Regions from separate parts of the Homo sapiens genome. Here region 2 is linked to region 1. The links come from fine-mapping of genetic effects on gene expression. Tissue or cell type: prefrontal cortex. Region 1 holds a variant in brackets; the other region holds the start of a gene. All regions are shown on one strand. Distances are from middle to middle.

Region 1 (9,828 bases):
ATTAACAGAGATCCCTTTGAATCTGGACTTCATAATTTTCTAGAATCCTTTTACTAACACAAGCTAAAAGATACAAGCCCAGCCGGGCATGGTGGCTCACGCCTGTAATCCCAGCACTTTGGGAGGCAGAAGCAGGTGGATTATCTGAGGTCAGGAGTTCGTGACCAGCCTGGCCAACATGGTGAAACCCCGTCTCTACTAAAAATACAAAAAAAAAAATTAGCCAGGCATGGTAGCGGGCACCTGTAGTCCCAGCTACTTGGGAGGCTAAGGCTGGAGAATCGCTTGAACCCAGGAGGCGAAGGTTGCAGTGAGCCGAGATTGTGCCACTGCACTCCAGCCTGGGCGACAAGAGCAAAACTCTGTCTCAAAAAAAAAAAAAAAAAAAAAAAAAAGATACAAGCCCAGGTAAAGAGAGAACCTGAGGTGCACTCAGGGATGACCTATCAAGGTTATTCAAGAAGCAGTTTTCCATCCGCTAACATTGAATTTTCTGCTATATAAACAATGACCTAAAAGTTTAGAGGAGAACTTAATTGAAGTAGCAGATTTATACAGAAGAAGGGAGAAGTAAGCACTGGAGATAATTCTAAATAACTTAACCATTTATAAAAGTTATAGTATTTACAGAAGAATTTTCCCAAAATACAATGCTTCAAAGGCTCTACAGGAAAGAAGAGATGCAGGACAAAATGGTTGCATCCTGGACTCAAGTAGCAGAAGAAAAAGTCCAGAAACATATCCCTGAATAGAAGAGAAAACAGAGTGAGGGGAGCTAAGGAGGGTGCCCTATAGAAAAAGATGCAGAGAAGACATACAGCAGGATAAGGACATCAAAGGCTCCTGACTTCCAGTTCTCCTCTAAGTTGAAGACAGCATGCAAACATACACTTCTGATGTCGCCACAGAAAAAAGATCATGACTGGCAGAACCATCAGAGCCACATATAACACAACATGTGGACTTGGTCAGAGATGGGTCACTGAGACTACATCCTCTTGCTCCCCTTGTGATAGGAATATAGTTATTCTTGTGGTCACTTAATAGACATGGATGGAAAATCTAAGGAAATAGGATATAAAACAAGAGAGATGAAAATGCTTGGATGGCTAACTCAGTCTTCCACTATAAATCTTTCTCATTCTGTCTACAATTTGGAAGTAGCCAAGGTACAGGTGGGAAAGAATAAGGAGAGAAATAAGTGGCCCTCAACATCAGAGGTAGGGCATCTGGAAGTCTCAAAATGACCAAACAAACCAGATATATTTCAGAAGGACAAGAAACTGGATCCCTGAAGCTTAGGACATACCTGGAAAATAACTTCACCACAACACTAAAATATACACACACACAGCACAATGTACAACAAAATGTTTCCTAGTCATAGACTTCACTGGCTTTCCCAGCAAGACTTCATAAATTAGACATACCAAAAAAATTAAATACTTAAGAGATTCACATTTCCAAACGATCCACGCAGAGTTCCTAGAGGGGATTAATGCAGGGACTGAAAAGGTAGGTAAGATGCCCCAGCCAAATAGATCATGCTGCCGTCAAAGACTCCAACATGCCTTCCCAAGCCTTTGCAACCATCAGGGAGGTGGTAAATGAGGACGAAGAAGTCTTCTCTCCATAGAACTGATTTTACAGTGACAGGAGAGTAGAGAGGGTATCCACTCTGTTCACTTCTTCTGCAACTGAAGATTCCATCAGATTAGATCTATGGAAAAAGAGTTATCGTGACTTTATTGTTTTTCATGGTAGAGATGTTCAAAGAAAAGCAGGAAAACTAAAGGTCAGAATATTTCTCTATTTTCCCGTCCTTTTCTTTAGCTCCAATAGTCTGTAAACATTTCCTCCTTCCAGAAAGGCCCAGAAACTTTGTTATTTTCCATGATAAGCTTTTGAACTTTGCACTAGACTATAATATTTCTTGGGAGTGGGGATGGGGAGGGAACATTAGCATTTTGAGCAAGATGATTCTTTGTAGTATGTAACTGCTACAAGCCCTGCATGATGTTAGCATCACTAGCCCCAACCCAGAAAATACCAGTCGTAGCCACCCCTGTCAGTCATTGGGACAATAAAAACCACGACCCCACATTGTCAAATGTCCCCTAAGGAAGATGCTATTATTTCCAGCTGAAAACAATTGAGAATCATTTCTTCATGGTCAGAAGGCATCCATAGGAAACAGTGTTGGTCCAAAACAACTGTCTTGATACACATCTACTCAAGAAAGTTCCCCATTCTGCCTACTTTCTAAAGACAAAGCTGGAATTGGTAGTATTTGTCCTAAACCCTCAAGAGGAACAATATTTCTGCAGCCACTCACCTCGTAGGGAGCTTCAACAAACTTTATCCTAGAGAGAAATCTTCGCAGCTCCCCACGGCCAATTTTGGGGGTGGACTCCTGTAGCTGAGCCATCTGGCCCTCCATTAGTGCCCACCGTAGACTAAGCTTGCTGACCACCAGGGCTGCTGGATGGCCTTCGGAGCTTGGCCCTGTTGTCCTGGTAACATAAAAGGCATCTTTCCAGAGGTCGTTAATTCCAACTGAGGAAGGACAAAAACAAGAGCAGTTAACATGGACACATACCGTCCACTAACAGGAGAGGGGTTTGGTTCAACAATACATTTATTTACTCATAAGTTCATACAGGAAATGTACTGAGCACTGAATAAACAGAAGGCAGTGAGCTAGCCCACGGGTGCAAAGAGGGGAAGGACTGGACGCCAGTAAAGCAGCACATTCTTCCTGGTCTTTGCACCTTTACTCCTCTGAAGCTATTTCCAAAAAAGCCCAACTCAGGAACTGAGAGAATGTGCCCCTTGTGGCAAGAATTCAGTAGAAAAGCAAGCCCGAAACACTAGGGAGCCTGAGAATTCCCAGACTGTCAGTGCGCAGTCACAGAGGCGATTTACCTTGCCAGTGTTTATTTTGCCTTATCTTTAAAATACAAGTTGTATAAGGTGTAAGGAAGGGATCCAGTTTCAGCTTTCTACATATGGCTAGCCAGTTTTCCCAGCACCATTTATTAAATAGGGAATCCTTTCTCCATTGCTTGTTTTTCTCAGGTTTGTCAAAGATCAGATAGTTGTAGGTATGCAGCGTTATTTCTGAGGGCTCTGTTCTGTTCCATTGATCTATATCTCTGTTTTGGTACCAATACCATGCTGTTTTGGTTACTGTAGCCTTGTAGTATAGTTTGAAGTCAGGTAGCGTGATGCCTCCAGCTTTGTTCTTTTGGCTTAGGATTGACTTGGTGATACGGGCTCTTTTTTGGTTCCATATGAACTTTAAAGTAGTTTTTTCCAATTCTGTGAAGAAAGTCATTGGTAGCTTGATGGGGATGGCATTGAATCTGTAAATTACCTTGGGCAGTATGGCCATTTTCACGATATTGATTCTTCCTACCCATGAGCATGGAATGTTCTTCCATTTGTTTGTATCCTCTTTTATTTCCTTGAGCAGTGGTTTGTAGTTCTCCTTGAAGAGGTCCTTCATGTCCCTTGTAAGTTGGATTCCTAGGTCTTTTATTCTCTTTGAAGCAATTGTGAATGGGAGTTCACTCATGATATGGCTCTCTGTTTGTCTGTTATTGGTGTATAAGAATGCCTGTGATTTTTGTACATTGATTTTGTATCCTGAGACTTTGCTGAAGTTGCTTATCAGCTTAAGGAGATTTTGGGCTGAGACAATGGGGTTTTCTAGATATGCAATCATGTCATCTGCAAACATGGACAATTTGACTTCCTCTTTTCCTAATTGAATACCCTTTATTTCCTTCTCTTGCCTAACTGCCCTAGCCAGAACTTCCAACACTATGTTGAATAGGAGTGGTGAGAGAGGGCATCCCTGTCTTATGCCAGTTTTCAAAGGGAATGCTTCCAGTTTTTGCCCATTCAGTAGGATATTGGCTGTGGACTTAAACGTTAGACCTAAAACCATAAAAACCCTAGAAAGAAACCTAGGCATTACCATTCAGGACATAGGCATGGGCAAGGACTTCATGTCTAAAACACCAAAAGCAATGGCAACAAAAGACAAAATTGACAAACGGGATCTAATTAAACTAAAGAGCTTCTGCACAGCAAAAGAAACTACCATCAGAGTGAACAGGCAACCTACAAAATGGGAGAAAATTTTCGCAACCTACTCATCTGACAAAGGGCTAATATCCAGAATCTACAGTGAACTCCAACAAATTTACAAGAAAAAAACAAACAACCCCATCAA[C/A]AAGTGGGCGAAGGACATGAACAGACACTTCTCAAAAGAAGACATTTATGCAGCCAAAAAACACATGAAAAAATGCTCACCATCACTGGCCATCAGAGAAATGCAAATCAAAACCACAATGAGATACCATCTCACACCAGTTAGAATGGCAATCATTAAAAAGTCAGGAAACAACAGGTGCTGGAGAGGATGTGGAGAAATAGGAATACTTTTACACTGTTGGGACTGTAAACTAGTTCAACCATTGTGGAAGTCAGTGTGGCGATTCCTCAGGGATCTAGAACTAGAAATACCATTTGACCCAGCCATCCCATTACTGGGTATATACCCAAAAGACTATAAATCATGCTGCCATAAAGACACATGCACACGTATATTTATTGCGGCACTATTCACAATAGCAAAGACTTGGAACCAACCCAAATGTCCAACAATGATAGACTGGATTAAGAAAATGTGGCACATATACACCATGGAATACTATGCAGCCATAAAAAATGATGAGTTCATGTCCTTTGTAGGGACATGGATGAAATTAGAAATCATCATTCTCAGTAAACTATCGCAAGGACAAAAAACCAAACACCGCATGTTCTCACTCATAGGTGGGAATAGAACAATGAGAACACATGGACACAAGAAGGGGAACATCACACTCTGGGGACTGTTGTGGGGTGGGGGGGAGGGGGGAGGGATAGCATTAGGAGATATACCTAATGCTAGATGACGAGTTAATGGGTGCAGCACACCAGCATGGCACATGTATACATATGTAACTAACCTGCACATTGTGCACATGTACCCTAAACCTTAAAGTATAATAATAATAAAATTTAAAAAATGAATAAATAAAATAAAATACAAGTTGTAATAAAAATGGTGTCAAGATTCTTAATTACCATTATTTGATGTTCACTGAATATTTTATGCTACTGTTGAAAAAACAGCTCACTCAGATCTAATCACAGGATTTTCCAAGCTCATACCTCCCTGCCCCCACCCCCCAATCAGTGGACAGGTGTGCCTGCAAGTTCCAGGTAAGCTGTTCTTCCCCGTGTATCCCAATAAATCGAGAGAGCTACAAACACCAGCTGCAGCCCAAGGCCAATGAGTTTGTAAGTAGACAGCCAAGTCCATAAGTAGCAAGAGAATGTGGAAAGAAAGAAAGGAGATGTGGTCATCTGGTCCTCTCCCACTCCTGCACTCCCTGACCTCCCAACAGGAACAGCAGATTCCATGAGGGAAGGAATCGCTGAGGAGATCACCAGACAACCTAGACTAGCAGGCAGCAGAGGCTGCAATCCCAATGCTTTGGTTTCCTGAGTTGAGGGTCTCCCATATAGGATCCCATTTTATTTACAGTGTTATTTAGACAGATATGTAAAGTAGAAGAACACTTCCAAAATGCTAATAGTGGTTATGAGTGGCCAGATTATGGCCAATTTTTCTTTCTTCCTTTGATTTTTCTTCTTTCTCCAATTTCTATGCAGGGTGCACAGTTATATTCAAAAAAAGGTTTTCTAAATCAATGCCCTGGCAAAACACATTCTATCTCCATCATGTCCTTCACAGTTAATTCCAAATCCTAATCTCTGAGTGGGTCAAGAAACTAGTCTTATTTGTAGTCCCAGCACCTGGCACAGTGTCTGGCATACAGATGATGCTCATTAAATGTCTGCTGAAGGAGTGGCTGGATGAATCATCACCTTACAGACCCTTTGGAATGGGACGCGCTTTCACCTCCACATTCAGAGCATATGGGTTCTCACCCTGTGAGCCCGGGGCTTCCACCCAGGGGAGCATTCCAGCAAAGAGGCACCAGGGACACCAGGGAAAGTGCCCTGCTGTCGTCTGAGAAGCACACATCCTTCCCTGGGTGGGGCAATGGTCTCATTACACACAGCCAACACATACTCTCCCACCATCTGCGTACACAGACTCCCGCTGGCACTGGGACTCACCCTCTGAAGCCGTCACTGTGCCGGTGGTGTTGGCCAGATCCAGAAGGATGGAGGGGAACGCAGGATGCAGGAGGTAAAGGTGGTGAAGGCTGGGCGGCTCAGTTCCTAGGATGATATCCTGATAATAAGCAGCAAAAAGGAAGAGCAAAGGTAACGCTACATTCCCACACGTGACAGTCCTCAGGTGAAAAGGCAGAGTAGAAAATGGTGATTACTCATTCCTCTCAGATGCTAATGCCTGATCCTAACTACAAGAATGTGTTTGAAAGAAACTCCCCTGTATAAGAGACATATTTCAAAGAGCTCAAAATAGTAATCACTAACTCTTTCAAACCACTATCTACAGCTGGAAAATGCTTTCTCCCTTGTAAGAAAAAAAAGGAAGGCAGGCCTGGTGCGGTGGCTCATGCCTGTAATCCCAGCACTTTAGGAGGCCGAGGTGGGCAGATGACCTGAGGTCAGGAGTTCGAGACCAGCCTGGCCAACATGGAGAAACCCTGTCCCTACCGAAAATACAAAAAAAAAAAAAAAAAGAGAAAAAAAAGCTGGGCTTGGTGGTATGCCTGTAGCCCCAGCTACTCAGGAGGCTGAGGCAGGAGAATCACTTGAACCTGGGAGGCACAGGTTGCAGTGAGCCAAGATCATGCCACTGCACTCCAGCCTGGGTGACAGAGAGAGACTCTGTCTCAAAAAATAAAAAAAAAAAAAAAGAAAAGAAAAGAAAAGGCAATGTACAGGTCCCAAGAGAGGAATCTGACAAGATGTCCCAGTCTTCTGCCCATGGAAGTACTGGAATACTGGTTCATCCCTTGCAGCAGATGGGGCTTTGTGGAGATGTAATCTATTCATGAAAACACAGTGAGCCAAAGATATTTCCTTTCACTGGGTGTCAAAGCCAACTGCAAGCATCAGGCTAAAAATTACAAAAATCTTATCTGTTCCTGAAATGAGTGGAATGTTGACCAGACAGAGGCAAATCATCAATTATAAAACAAAAGTTCCAAGGCCTGAGTGTCAGTCTTCAAACTCTCTACAGCAGAAGAAATGCACATTGGGACTATCTTTATCAGTATGACTTCTATGTGGGGATGGGACTTGAGACTTGGCAGGTACATGAGTGTGCAGCCATGCAGTTGTTAAGGCACAGAAGTACACCCATGTGAGTTAGTAAGTGGCTGCTCTCCAGAGCTTCCCAAGTGCCTCTCCTCCCCTGGGACTACCTTGGGCCTCCTGCAGTAGAGGAAATGGAAGCTCTGAGGGATGAATATTACCCCTGCTTCCATATCGCTGCATGGGAAGAAGTCCCCAAGTGAGGAGAAGTGTGAGCAGGAAGCTTGCAACCTCACTCTCAACACATCCCCACAAAGCAGAAGAGGGCATCTTCCACACACCCTTAGGATCCCAGGTATGAAAGGACAGATCTCCAGCTCAGCTAACATGAGAAGAAAACAGCCATACACCTTCCTCACTGCCTACAGAATGAAGCACAAATTCCTTAGCAGTCTTATACCATTTAACCAAAATATGCCTTTTCCAGACTGAGCTGCTATGACTCACCTGCCCACCCCATGCTGCACAAATGTCTGATCATCACCCTCAATCCATGCTTCACCTTACTCTGCCTAACCGTTGCCAATCTTATTTGCCTCTTAGACTGTCTAACTATCCTCTCTACCCCATCTCTACACTTCTCGTCCTTAGGTGCCCACCTTGGCCCCCTCTTTGAGGAAAAGCTCCCTTATTACCCTAGGCAAAATTAACATCTCCCTTCTTTTGTGCTTCCATGTAAACTTCTTACTTGTACCTCTATTAAAGCATTTGTAACATGGCTCTTTTCTTTTTGTAGTTATTTATAGAAGACTACACTTGAGACTTATCTTGCCCAATACCCTCATTTTATTATAGGAGGGGTCTTCAAAAAGTTCATGGAAATGCAGATTATGAAAAAACTATGCAAGGACTTCAAAATTTTTTTTGCACCAGAGGAAACTCATACTAACTTGTTATAACATGCCTGAACAGGAGCTAGTCTGAGGCACCAAGAAGGGTAAGATATCAGTTTGAAAACAGCCCCTATCAAAGTAACACAAATTCTGCCAAAAAGGTGAAGCAAGAACATGCATCAAATTTGTGGTGAATTTTGGGTGGAAGAATGGTGAAATCATTGATGCTTTCTGAAGAATTTGTGATGACAATGCCCCAGAGAGATCAGCAGCTTAGACGCGGATAGCTCATTTTCACGAGGGACAAAATGATGTCGGAGATTAAACCCACAATGGCAGACCATCCTCAACAATTTGTGAGGAAAAAATTAATCTTGTTCATGCCCTAACTGAAGAGAACCAATGATTAACAGCACAAACAATAGCCACCACTGAAGACACCTCAATTGGTTCAGTTTACGTAATTCTGGTTGAAAAATTAAAGTTGAGCGAACTTTCCACGGGATGGGTGGCAAAACTGTTGGCCCATATTAGCTGCAGACAACAGCAGGACTTTCAATGGAAATTTTAAACAAGTGGGATCAAGATCCTGGAAGCATTTCTTTGAAGATCTGTAGCAGGAGATGAAACATGGCTTTACCAGTGTGCTCCTGAAGGCAAAGCACAATGAAAGCAATGACTACAAGAGGTGGAAGTGGTCCAGTCCAAGAAAAAGTGGAAAGGTCAACAGCAAAAGTCATGACAGTATTTTGGAGGGATGCCCAAGGCATTTTGCTTGTTGACCAGACAGAGGCAAATCATCAATTATAAAACAAAAGTTCCAAGGCCTGAGTGTCAGTCTTCAAACTCTCTACAGCAGAAGAAATGCACATTATGTTGACGTTAAGGCTAAAGAATGATAACATTGGCTGGGTGCGGTGGCTCATGCCTGTAATCCCAGCTCTTAGGGAAGCAGAGGCAGGATGACAGCTTGAGCCCAGGAGTTCGAGGCCTGCCTGGGCAATACAGCAAGACCCCATTCTCCACAAAAAGGAAAAAAAAAAAAAAGACAAAAAAAGAATGATAACATCTGCTTAAAATGAGAGTGTTTGAGAAAGCCAAAGCTTTAGCAGAAAAACACCTGGGAAAGCTTCACCAGAGAGTTCTTCTCCATCACAACAATGTTCCTACTCATTCCTCTCATCAAACGAGCAATTTTGTGAGTTTCAATGGGAAATCATGAGGCATCCACCTTATGGTTCTGAGTTAGCTCCTTGTGACTTTCTTTAGTTTCCTAATCTTAAGAAATCTTTAAAGGGCTCTCATTTTTTTCAGTTTATAATGTAAAAAAAGACTGCATTGACATGATGAAACGCCCAGGACCCTCAGTTCTTTAGGGATGGACTAAACGGCTGGTATCAGTGCTTACAAAGTGTCTTGAACTTGATGGAGCTTATGTTAAGAAATAAAGTTCTTTTTTTTTTTTTTTTTTGAGACAAAGTCTCGCACTGTCGCCTGGGCTGGAGTGCAATTGCATGATCTCGGCTCACTGCAACCTCTGCCTCCCGGGTTCAAGCGATTCTCCTGCCTCAGCCTCCCAGATAGCTGGAATTACAGGTGCCCACCATCACACCTGGCTATTTTTTGTATTTTTAGTAGAGACGAGGTTTCACTACATTGGCCAGGCTGGTATCGAACTCCTGAC
Region 2 (11,408 bases), 33 kb after region 1:
TAGTACTCATTCCACAAGATACCACAAAGCTCTACAAATATTCAAGAAAGAAGTAACAACGAAACATAACAAACAATTAGCTGAAAAACAAATGCTGGACAAATCACACCACAAGATGGAAGAAATAATGAACATATACTTCCCCATGGAGTCTGAGAAATTTAGGAAAATCGTCTTCTCTGAAATAAGCACTCAGGAAAACAATGGAAAAAATAACAAACCAGTTTTAGAAAAGAAATCCTTATTGGAATCAGCTAAAGGAACAGATATTGCTGAAAACAGAGTCAGAGACATAAAAAGAATAGACTAGTGAAAATCAAGCAAAATGTAATGGAAATAACTACAGCTGGCAGTTCTGAACACTTATCCTACACTCTTCCAAGCCCTTTTAATGTCTTATCTCAGACCAGGGGTGCTGGCTCACGCCTGTAATCCCAGCACTTTGGGAGGCCAAGGCGAGCAGATCACTTGAGGTCAGGACTTCAAGACCAGCCCGGCCAACGTGGCGAGACCCCGTCTCTACTGAAAATACAAAAATTTGCCACGTGTGGTGGCAGGCGCCTGTAACCCCAGCTACTCAGGAGGCTGAGGCATTAAAATTGCTTGAACCTGGGAGGCGGAGGTTAGAGTGAGTCGAGACCATGCCACTGCACTCCAGCCTGGGCGACAGAACAAGACTTTGTCTCAAAAAAAAATTCTTATCTCAGTAAATCTTCATAACAACTATGTGAGGTAGACACATTACTGTCTTCACTTTCAAGATGAGGAAGCTGAGGCTTGGAAGTTTAAGTAATTAGCGGATGTGGTTTGGCTCTGTGTCCCCACCCAAATCTCAACTTGAATTGTACTTCCATAATTCCCATGTGTTGTGGGAGGGACCCAGTGGGAGATAACTGAATCATGGGGGCAGTTTCTTCCGTACTGTTCTCATGGTAGTGAATAAGTCTCACGAGATCTGATGGTTTTACAAGGGGAACCCTGTTTCGCTTGGTTCTCATTCTCTCTTGCCGCCACCATGTAAGATGTGCCTTTTACCTTCCACCATGATTGTGAGGCCTCCCTAGGCACACAGAACTGTAAGACCATTAAACCTCTTTCTTTTATAAATTGCCTCGTCTCAAGTATGTCTTTATCAGCAGTGTGAAAACAGACTAATACATTGGCCCACAGATAAACAGCAAGTGATAGGTAACAATTCAAAACCAGTCTGGCTTCAAAGTCTGTACGGGCTACATATGATCCCGTGGAAAAAAAATCAAGGCTTTAAAAAGACTAGAAACAACGTGATAGATACTGACAACAAAGGTGAGCCAATATATGCATGACCGAAGAGGATAACAGAAAAGAGGATAACAGAAAAGAGGATAACAGAAAACAGAAAAGAACCAAAAGCAGTATTTTAAAGAGTTGCCAAAAAAAACTTCCTACAATAAAGACCTAAAACTGCAGAATAATGAGTACACAGAGTCCCAAGAAAAACTGATTCAGAAGAATCAATACTGAAATATATCCTAGTAAAGGCACAGGACTTCAAGGACAAAGAAGGAATCCTATAAGCAGCCAGGCCAAAGGAAAAAGAATCAAGTCACTAATGACAGGAACAAAAATCAGGCAAAGATTTCTCCATAGTAACATACACTATTAAAAGATAGCGGAGCAATATCTAAAAAGTCCTCAGAGAAAGAACATGCAATTTGATGTCCAAGCATTCTGACCCAGCCATGACATCACCGAAATATAAAGACAAGCACACAAGCGCTCTGAGTTATCATATTCCTATGCTTTCTTTACATCACAGAAGACTAGGGGCCAGTTCTTGGCCAGCCTTTTGAGAGGAATAAATACTTTTATACTAATTTTTTTTTCAGATACTGCAAAAACAAACCTCCGCTTAAGGATTACAGACTGCAAGTTTTGATTAGAGAAGTCTTTAATAATATTTTTTCTATCTATTTACAGAAAGACAATAAGAGAGCGTGAAGTAAAAGACGTCCACCAACTTGCCTTAAAAGAAGTCCACCAACTTGCCTTAAAAGAAGTCCACCAACTTGCCTTAAGTCCTACTCAGGCTGAGGAGCCAGGCGTCAAATCCAGCTTCCAAGCTTAGGGCACTTAGCACTCACTCGCTTCCTTGCTACTTTCAGCCACCACCCAAATTTTTAATGAATGAAAGGTTTTCAAAGAATAAGGGAGAGGGCACTGATTTCATAACAAATCATTATAAATGCGCTTTCCACAGCTATTGCTTTTCCTCTTAGGAAGACTGAAGATGCTGCTTAAATATAATAGGATTTCCAAAATGGTAGAGAGGAAAACACAAATAGGAAAGTGATGCAACTATACCATACCCAAACGTTTTCAGGAAATATACTAAAACATACACTATTCTATAACATATACTATACTATAGTATACACTATACTGTGCATATACTATACAATACACTCTACTGCAACTAAAGGTAAATAATTCATATCATGGGTTAGTTTACCCAAGGGCATATAAAGACTAAGTTACACAAACAAAATAAATCATAAAAAATCATTTTGCTCTGATATTCCCTCCAGTGTTTGACCTTCAAACTTTAAAATGGCCTAAGAAAAAAAATATATATATACTTAGGAGATAAGCTGCCCTACAGGCTTTATGAATGTCATATTGGCCTTCTGCTACTAATTAACCTCATTTTATGCATGTGAGCCAAACATCTTTCCTTCTTGAGCTTAGCGAAACTGCTCTTTCATAACAAGACTGCTGAGATCTGTCAATAGCTCACTATTACATCAAGCCTTCCTTCAGGTATCACATTCATAAATGAGCACACTGCTGATGACAACAGCTAACACTTACTGACTAATTAACATATGTCAGAGGTTACTAGACCTCCTAAGTACATCCATCTCCTTTACTATTTCAGATAACCCTAGGAGGTAAATATGTAGTAGAATGTGTGGCATAGAGTGAATGTTCCATAATAATGTTATTGTTACAGATGAGGAAACTAAAGCTTAAAGAGATTAAGTAACTAATTAGGTAAAGACTGGATTTGAACCCGAGCCTGTCTCATGCTCTCAGCCACCACTCCAACCTGACTTCCTCACACATGAAAACAGTGGGGATGTTGGGGCCAGACGCAGTGGCTCATGCCTGTAATCCCAGCACTTTGGGAGGCCAAGGCAGGCGATCACCTGAGGTCGGGAGTTCCAGACCAGCCTGACCAACATGGAGAAACCCTGTCTCTACTAAAAATACAAAATTAGCTGGGCATTGTGGTGCATGCCTGTAATCCCAGCTACTCGGGAGGTTGAGGCAGGAGAATTGCTTGAACCCAGGAGGCGGAGGTTGCGGTGAGCCGAGATCACACAATTGCACTCCAGCCTGGGCAAGAAGAGCAAAACTCCGTCTCAAAAAAACAAACAAACAAACAAAAAAACAAACAAAGAAAACAGTGGGGATGTTAACTACAGGAACATAACACAGTAGCCCAAACAGGACAGCAGTCTCAGGACCCCAATTACAGGGGAGCCAAAAAGAGCTATATAAAAACAACTTGTACCTAATGCAAAAACTAAAAATAGTATTTTGGGTGGAGGGAAGAAGAAAGGGCAAGAAGGAGACAAGGAAAAACGCAAGTGAACATTTTCTCCCATCCAAGTACTAACCAGGCCCGACCCTGCTTAGCTTCCGAGATCAGACGAGATCGGGCGCGTTCAGGGTGGTATGGCCGTAGACGCAAGTGAACATTTTCTTAAAACCCACATCACATGAAAGAACACATGCCTACTATATCTGGGCCTAAAAAAGCATCAAGCATACCTCAGGGCTCAGGGCCAAGCTGCCTGCCAAACAGGCCCATGGACTGGACTATGGGAACCCCAACCAGTTCCTACAACTAATACTCCAGGGAGTAATAACACCACAGCCTTGGGGCATAAGAACACAAAAGACCTCAAGAGTTGCTAAAGCAAGATTTTCATGCATTCTCATTCTTAGAGAATAACAATGACCTACACTGAAATTTTAAAAAAGGACTCTAAAAGAAAAAAAAAAAAGAAATAAAGCTAAATGTCTGACATCTTATTACCCCTCTGGGAGGACATCATTCTACACTAAGGATATACAAAGTAAAAAAGTAAAAAATTAATCCTGCAGGTAAAGGGCCACGTCTCTCCTTTAATTCCAGTGTTATGCACACATTCCAAGGCAGATGCTATCAGTGTTCCTTCCAATGTTCCAATGAGCCCATATTAAAAAAAATAATAATCTGTCTGAGGTCATGAAGTCTGGGGACAGAAACGCAAATTAATATCCAACCTAGCGTCATCCAAATGGCAAGGTTCGCTTCAGGGTAGCATACTGGAAGCTCCTTGAGAACAAGGACCCTGTAATCCCCCTGCAAGCTCAAACTAGCTATCCAACCAAAACCCAAATAGCCCTCTCTAGAGATAGCTATGAAAGCAACTGCTTTTCCCTCTAATACAAATTATCAGCAAATAAATGTTTATAGCTTAATGCTTAAAACTTACCTAGGTAGAGCCATCAATTTTTCTAAAGCCTAATGTTTAAAATTTACTTGGGTGGAATAAATATACTTTTATTTAAATATCAACTTTCTAACAGTACAATCCTACTCTGGAGGTTTAGGAGGAAAAAAAAAAAAAAAGGAAAAAAAACTTGGAGCTGCTGCCCGAAGTACTGAATCAGCTCTGGAAGTTGTCATCACCCCTAATGCTGCCTTAAAGAAGATTCCATACATTATCTTCAACTTATAGGTGCCAAATCATTTCCCATGCTTAATCTCGGCAGCTGGAGACTGACCAAGTGGAATCAAAAGCTCAGGATTTAGAGTGAAAAGACCCCTGACGTTCAAGGCCGAGCTTTCCCAATACTTGTGAGACCTTGGACAATTCACTTAGCCAAATAACTCTCATTTTCTCTTCTGTAAACTAGGAAGGGACGTAAATACCTGTCCCACCTGCCTCATGGATGCGTCGTTGCTGCCGTTAGGTGGAGGGGATGATCCACAGAGGGCCACTCGCCGTCCCGCCGCCCCCGCCCAGGTCCAGCCAAGACAGAAGGCGCCGGAGTCCCTGCGGTGCTGGGTCCGCGGCGCTCGGGAAGGATGCTCCTCTCGCCAGCCTCCCCTCGGGACAGCGGCGACCGGCGTTCTGACATTCCCCGCCGTAACACCTGCTCGGCGCCCTCTCCCCGCGCGTCTCCGGGTTCGCCCCGCGCCCGAGACCCCTGCCCCGCTGGGCGCCCCTCTCGCCCTCTGGTGGCACAGAGACCCCAGCCCCAAGGGACTGCACCCTCCTCGGCACCGGGCGCCTGCAGCTGAGTCTGGGTTGAGGCCAGGGCCCGACCGGCCTCGCCCCCAGAGCCTCGCCTCCCCTTATTCCAACACCGGCGGGGACTGGGTGGTCGCAAGCATGCGACTCCTTACCCGGCAGCTTGAGCGCCCTGGACAGCACGGTCGCCATGGCTGAGGCCCCGGTGCGCGTGCGCGCGCCCGCGTTCTGCCGGGAAGTGTAGTTCCGAGCGGCGGTGCGTGGGGCTGGGACCGGGAAAGGTGGGACCCGCTTGCTGGGGACAGAGCTGAGGGAGGCCAAGCCAGAGTACACGCTCCGCAGGCTTTTCTCCCACCCTACCTATGCAGGTCACCTCACCACTCTGAGTCTCACTTGCCTCGTCAGTGAAATGGGGAGAAAATACCCCGTAAGCTTGCAGTGAAAATGATTCGAAGGAGATATTTAAGGAGGTGTGGATTGTGCAATGTGCGTGGGCTTTGAAATCAGGCAGACTGGATTTGAATCCTGCCTGAATCACTTACTAGCTGGGCCATCTTGGGCAAGTCCCTTGGGGCGACTGAGCTGCCGCTGCTTTTTTTTAATTAAAGACATACTACCTACTTCACAAGCTTGCAATGAGAATTAAATGATACGACCTGTTTAAAACACACAGCACACAGTAGGCACCTAGTAAGAGTGTTTCTATTACGCTTCTTAGGTAGAAGTTGAAGTTTCCTGGAGCTCGAACCCTCATTTATTGCTCCCAGTTCTTTACAGGTGTCTACTCAGCACCCTACGCTGCAGCTTCTAGTTGAAGGGTGTAGAAGGAGGATCCGACTGTGTACATACATCCAATAGATGCAGCATCTCCAGCTCCTCAGATTTCAATGCTTGACCTTTAAGGCATCTGCACGCTCCCCGTAATCACCCCAGCTTTGCCTGAATGATTTTTGCGGAGAGCCCGATGCCCAGGAATTCCTCCTTCCTTGGCTCCCTGAGCTTTCCCCCACTTTGTCTTCCTTGTCCCTCTGGAAATCTCCTTCATCCCTCCATAACTTTTTTCCATTTTAACATAGGAACTGCAGCTTAGAATAGTATTTCTCAAATTTAATGTACTTTCTTTTCAATTAAAGAAAAAAATTCAAAGCAGCTGCCAAATGAATCAGGATCCTTACCTTTTACATAGAGAATACCTGTGTGTTCCTCTCTAGCTACTGAGTGGAATGTGAATACTTTTGCTGCCCAAACACCCACTGAGGTCACTGTGGAAAATGCAAACACCCAGGCCCTCTCTGACTTCTGAACTTGGCTTGCCTCAGGACCAGGCACAGTGGTGTAGAAGGAAGAACTGACTTGCTTCTTTCCCACACGCAAGTGATCAGCATTTTAGTGCAGGAATGCTAATACTGTGTTATCTTAGAACTGGAACAGATCCTAGAGGCTATCTAGTCCCACTCTCCTTGTTTTGTTTAAGAGAAAGCTGAGAAATAGAAAGGTAATGTAACTTCTGAGTGTCACAACAAAAGCTCCAAGATACATCTCATTTGCAGGCTGCCTAATTCCCGTGAGAAACTGCAGACAGGACTATCCTGTGGGAGTAATCTGAGAGTCTCCAGCAATCAGTCTCACCTCCTTTCTTCCCTTGGAAAAAAAAAATGTCATTGTCTCTGATAGAGCACAGGCTCTGGAGCCAGGAGCCAGGCCTCCCGAGATCAAATCCTGACTCTATCATTTCCTAGATGCCAGGCAGAGGGTTAGTTGCTTAATTTCTCCCCACCTCAATTTTCTCATCTGCAAAATGGGGACAAAACAGTTCCTAGTTTATAGAGTTCTCCTGAGAATTAAATATATATGTAGAAAGCACTTACAACAGTGCCTGGCACTTAGTGTTTTCTAAGTATTCACTCTTCTTTTATCGATAATTTCTTAATGTTTTAACAATTTAAAATTTGTAACTTAATAACAAATAATACATTTCATAGTAATTTAATGGTTTAGTAATGTATTTATTTATTAATTCTTTCAACATTCTACAATACCCAAAATTTCTACTGCTTGCCACTTCTCTGGAGGCATGATTAAAAAACATATTTTACATCTATGTAGGTCATCTAAAAGGAGCAACACTACAAGTCACAATGAGCCAGTAGTAGCTTGCCTGATATCAGTTTAACTAAATGGAACGCATTCCTGAAATATGAAGACTGAGAAAAATAACCTGTGAATGTGACAGGGATGTAGAAAAATGTTCATTTTAGTTGCAGAACAAGAACTTGAGTTTCTAGGAGAAAGTTTGGGTGGAAAGGAATAGCCAGGTCACACAGGATAGGAAGAAAGAAGAAAAATCTGTCTCCTTTTCTTAGTGAAAAGGTATATTCCGGGAGAGTACCTTCTTCTGTGATATAAATAAAATAAAGATGTATAAAGTTTTATTTAAAAACTTTGTCTCAGAACCAGGCACAGTGGCTTGTGCCTGCAATCCCAGCACTTTGAGAGGCTGAGGTGGGAGGATTACTGGAGTTGAGGAGTTGGAAGCTGCAGTGAACTGTGATTGAACCACTGTACTCCAACCTGGGCAACAGTATGAGACCCCTGTCTCAAAAACAAAACAAAACAAAAAAAAACTTTGCTTCAAACTGTGTAGTTACCCAAAGTGCCCATGTGCATGTACACACTTACATGTGTACATATAAACATGTGTCAGTGTACATACATCCAATAGATGCAGCATCTCCGGCTCCTCAGATTTCAATGCTTGACCTTTAAGGCATCTGCACACTCCCCATAATCACCCCAGCTTTGCCCGAATGATTTTTGCAGGGAGGCCGATGCCCAGGAATTCCTCCTTCCTTGGCTTCCTGAGCTTTCCTCCACTTTGTCTTCCTTGTCCCTCTAGAAATCTCTTTCATCCCTCCACAACTTTTTTCCATTTTAACATAGGAACTGCAGCTTAGAATAGTATTTCTCAAATTTAATGTACTTTCTTTTCAATTAAAGAAAAAAATTCAAAGCAGCTGCCAAATGAATCAGGATCCTTACCTTTTACATGGAGAATACCTGTGAGTTCCTTTCTAGCTACCTAGTGGAATGTGAATACCTTTGTTGTCCAAACACCCACTGAGGTCACTGTGGAAAATGCAAACACCCAGGCCCTCTCTGACTTCTGAACTTGGCTTGCCTTCCTGACAAGTACAAGAGTGACCGGGGCGGGATGCCTATGAACAGCCTAACCTGCCTGGTGGCTGTGCCTGCTTGAAGAAATTACTTTTCTGAAAAATCACAACTGAAGTCAGAAAATCACCTTCTATTTTTCCTACATTGATCTACAGTGAGAGTGTTCTTCCCCAACCTTCTCAAGTTCCCATAACTCATAGAGGGAACCCATATTGCTGGTTATTACCTTTGTAATACTCCAAGTACTGCTCAGAATCTCTAAGTGTCCTGCATGGGCTTATGATCAAATCTGACCATCTAATGCTTGCCTTTCCCTGGACAGTGTGGCCACTTCTGCTGGTCCTGACTATCCCCACTAGGTTTCACCACCTCTTCTTGGAACCAATGCCACTGTATCTACCAGCGGCCGCCTCCCTTCCTCCTTGGTTCCACTGCGCTGCCAGGCCCCTCAAAAACTGCCTCCTCTCAAAAACTGCTGCCTCTTCCTGTATCTCTCACTAAATGCCACCTCATATTTTAGTGCTCCTAAAATGTCAAAGCTGTGAGGGGCAAAGGAAACCAGGGAAGACTGCCTTTCTCTCCTTTTCATATTACACTTTATTAGGAAATTGCCAATGCTATGCTGCTACTCCTTCAGGTTGAATGCAGTATTTTCATTAGACAGAGCTTCTATTTTTACTTAGCAGGTCAACCAGAGCAAGATAATTGCTGTAACAAACAACCTCAAGATTCCAATGATTTTAGAGTGTAAAAATTTATTTCTGCCTATGTCAGAGTCAAGGTGGGGGTGCAAGTAGACTGCACTGGGGCTCTATTCCTCCCAGCCATTCAGGGACCCAGGCCCTTCTGTCTCCAGCTGCTTCATCCTTAGGGCCTCGGAGGCCTCCACTGGATCGTTTGCATCCCAGATCATGCAGGAAGTGTTATGGGCCAGGCCTGGAGCTGGTGTATGTGAATTCTGCCCACATTTATTAGGCTAGAATTCAGACAGAGAGTATGTGTGCCAGGAAGGTATGAGCCCAGGAAGAAAAGGAGACAAGTTTGGGGAGCATCTAGCCAGTGTCTGCGACACTGGTCACCCCATGCCTTTGTAAATTACAGACCTGAGTTCTTGAGTTCTTGATGGTAGGAAAGGGTTCAGGCGCCGCTCTCCTTAGGATTGCCTTTCTCCTGTAGGGACTAAGGCTTTGTTCCTGAGCTGAGTTTCTTGTAATGACTTATGGGTCTAAGCTGAAGCTCTCCCAGGAGGCTCCCCTCACTCCCTCTGCAGAGAGATTTCTGGAAGCCATTCCTACATCTATCAGCAGAGGATGGACAAATCTGAACTCCACTGACTTATCTGAAGCTGAGGGTAGTACCCTCTGCTACACTGGTGCCAAAAAGGGTCAGGAAGCAGTAATTAGTATGAGATTCGAAAAGCAAAAAGAAAATGTCATAGCAAATAGCAGTGAGGGCAGTGAGATTGAGAAAAGCGAAAGAGGTGCACAGCAGAGGACATTTAGGAGTTAAATGCAGATGTCAAGGAGCCTGTGAAATCAGTCTTGCGTGAGGATCAGGAAGTTTGAAACGCATGTGTACCAGTGGCATATTCACTTCTCTTCACAGAGAACTGAACTCTGCCCAGGAGTTGCATGGCTTGTCATGAAGACAAACAGGTTTATGTTCCCAGAATGTCCTTTGATAAAACACAAGGGCTCATCTCACTCAGATCATACAGACTTTTAGCCTATAAAACTTTCTAGAGTCTAGACTATAAAATGCTCTGTGGGCCCTGAAATTTAAACAAAGGCTTCTTCTTAACAAGCCTCTGGCTGGAACATATGTTTGAGAACAGTGTAATTAAGGACAGACACACCCAGGCCAAATGAGCTCTTGGTCCTCCCATCCCTCATTCTGGCATGTTCATGTCAACCGAAGGACCTGTAGTAGCAGTGTAGATGGTAACAGCCCCCATTCGCTGAGCACTCATCACCTATAAAAGAAGACAGTGTTTTGGAGTCTTGCCAGTCTTGATCAGCCCCTTCACTGCCTTCCAAAAGAAAATGCAATGGGCCAAGCATATTGTGACTTGGGGAGTTTTCCTGAAGATTCAAGGGGCCAGGGAAAGGGGTCAAGGCACATAGCATTTCCCCCCCCCCGCCGCCCCCCCAAAAAGCTCTGTTAGATGCATCTCTTCTCCCAGGTCTCTGCTGTTGGCCGCATCACTTCATCTTCCCCACCACTAAGACCTCTTGGGTCAGTTCCACTCTCAGGCTTTCTCCTCCTCCCTTATTTCCTGCCTTCTGCGGCCGTTAGCTTCAACAGGAGGCTATAGTCTCACCTCCATCCTATGGGCAGAACCTTTCCATGGAAGGTAAACTGAGATGGATAAAGCCATTTGCCCAAAGTGACACAATTCCCAAGGACTTGAAGAAGGATTTGAATGCAGGTTTTTCTGTCTTTTAATCACAAGCAGTGACGTCAGATACATGGCATGTGTGCTCCAATTTGTCTTTTCTTCTTCCAGGGCACATGTCACTCACCACACTCTGACAGTGGGCCCAGACATAGCTTCAGAATCCCTCACTCCGCTGTCCAGGGAGCCACTACCTATCAATTGGATTCAGCTCAAAAATTGAAAACTATTTGTAATCCCTGCCTCACTTATGGCATTGTAACCAAACTATAAACTCTTTTATAAAAGTACTTGATTCATGACAGATTTTAGTGCTGAATGTAGCTGATATTTGGCCAACATTTGTTCTCATTTGTTGGGAGTGCTAGCTGATTAGTCAGACATGTTCTGGTTAGTCAGGACCTATGCAGTACTGTGTTTTTCTTTCCTTTTTTTTTTTTTTATATAACCAAGATTTTTTTTTTTTTGAGACAAGGTCTTGTTCTGTAGTGTTTTTCATATTTAGATTACATCCCTGTTGAGACTTCTCAGTTCTGCATGTCTAGCTCACT

What was found. PIP is the estimated chance that this variant, and not a neighbour inherited with it, causes the effect.
Region 2: it holds the start of FAM234B, and the variant in region 1 is fine-mapped to the expression of FAM234B in prefrontal cortex (BrainSeq, PIP 0.92).

What each region holds. Positions count from the first base shown.
Region 1 is chr12:13,072,517-13,082,344 of GRCh38, reverse strand. It overlaps FAM234B (family with sequence similarity 234 member B), which reads right to left. Exons shown (of 13, transcript NM_020853.2): 11 at 6,202-6,319; 12 at 2,336-2,556; 13 at 1-1,720. The coding sequence ends at 1,715. Among named protein-coding and RNA genes, the nearest start is that of GSG1, 26 kb to the left of the region's middle. The variant C/A (reference allele first, on the strand shown) is at 4,241.
Region 2 is chr12:13,038,476-13,049,883 of GRCh38, reverse strand. FAM234B (family with sequence similarity 234 member B) reads right to left here and starts at 5,503. Exons shown (of 13, transcript NM_020853.2): 1 at 5,444-5,503. The coding sequence starts at 5,480.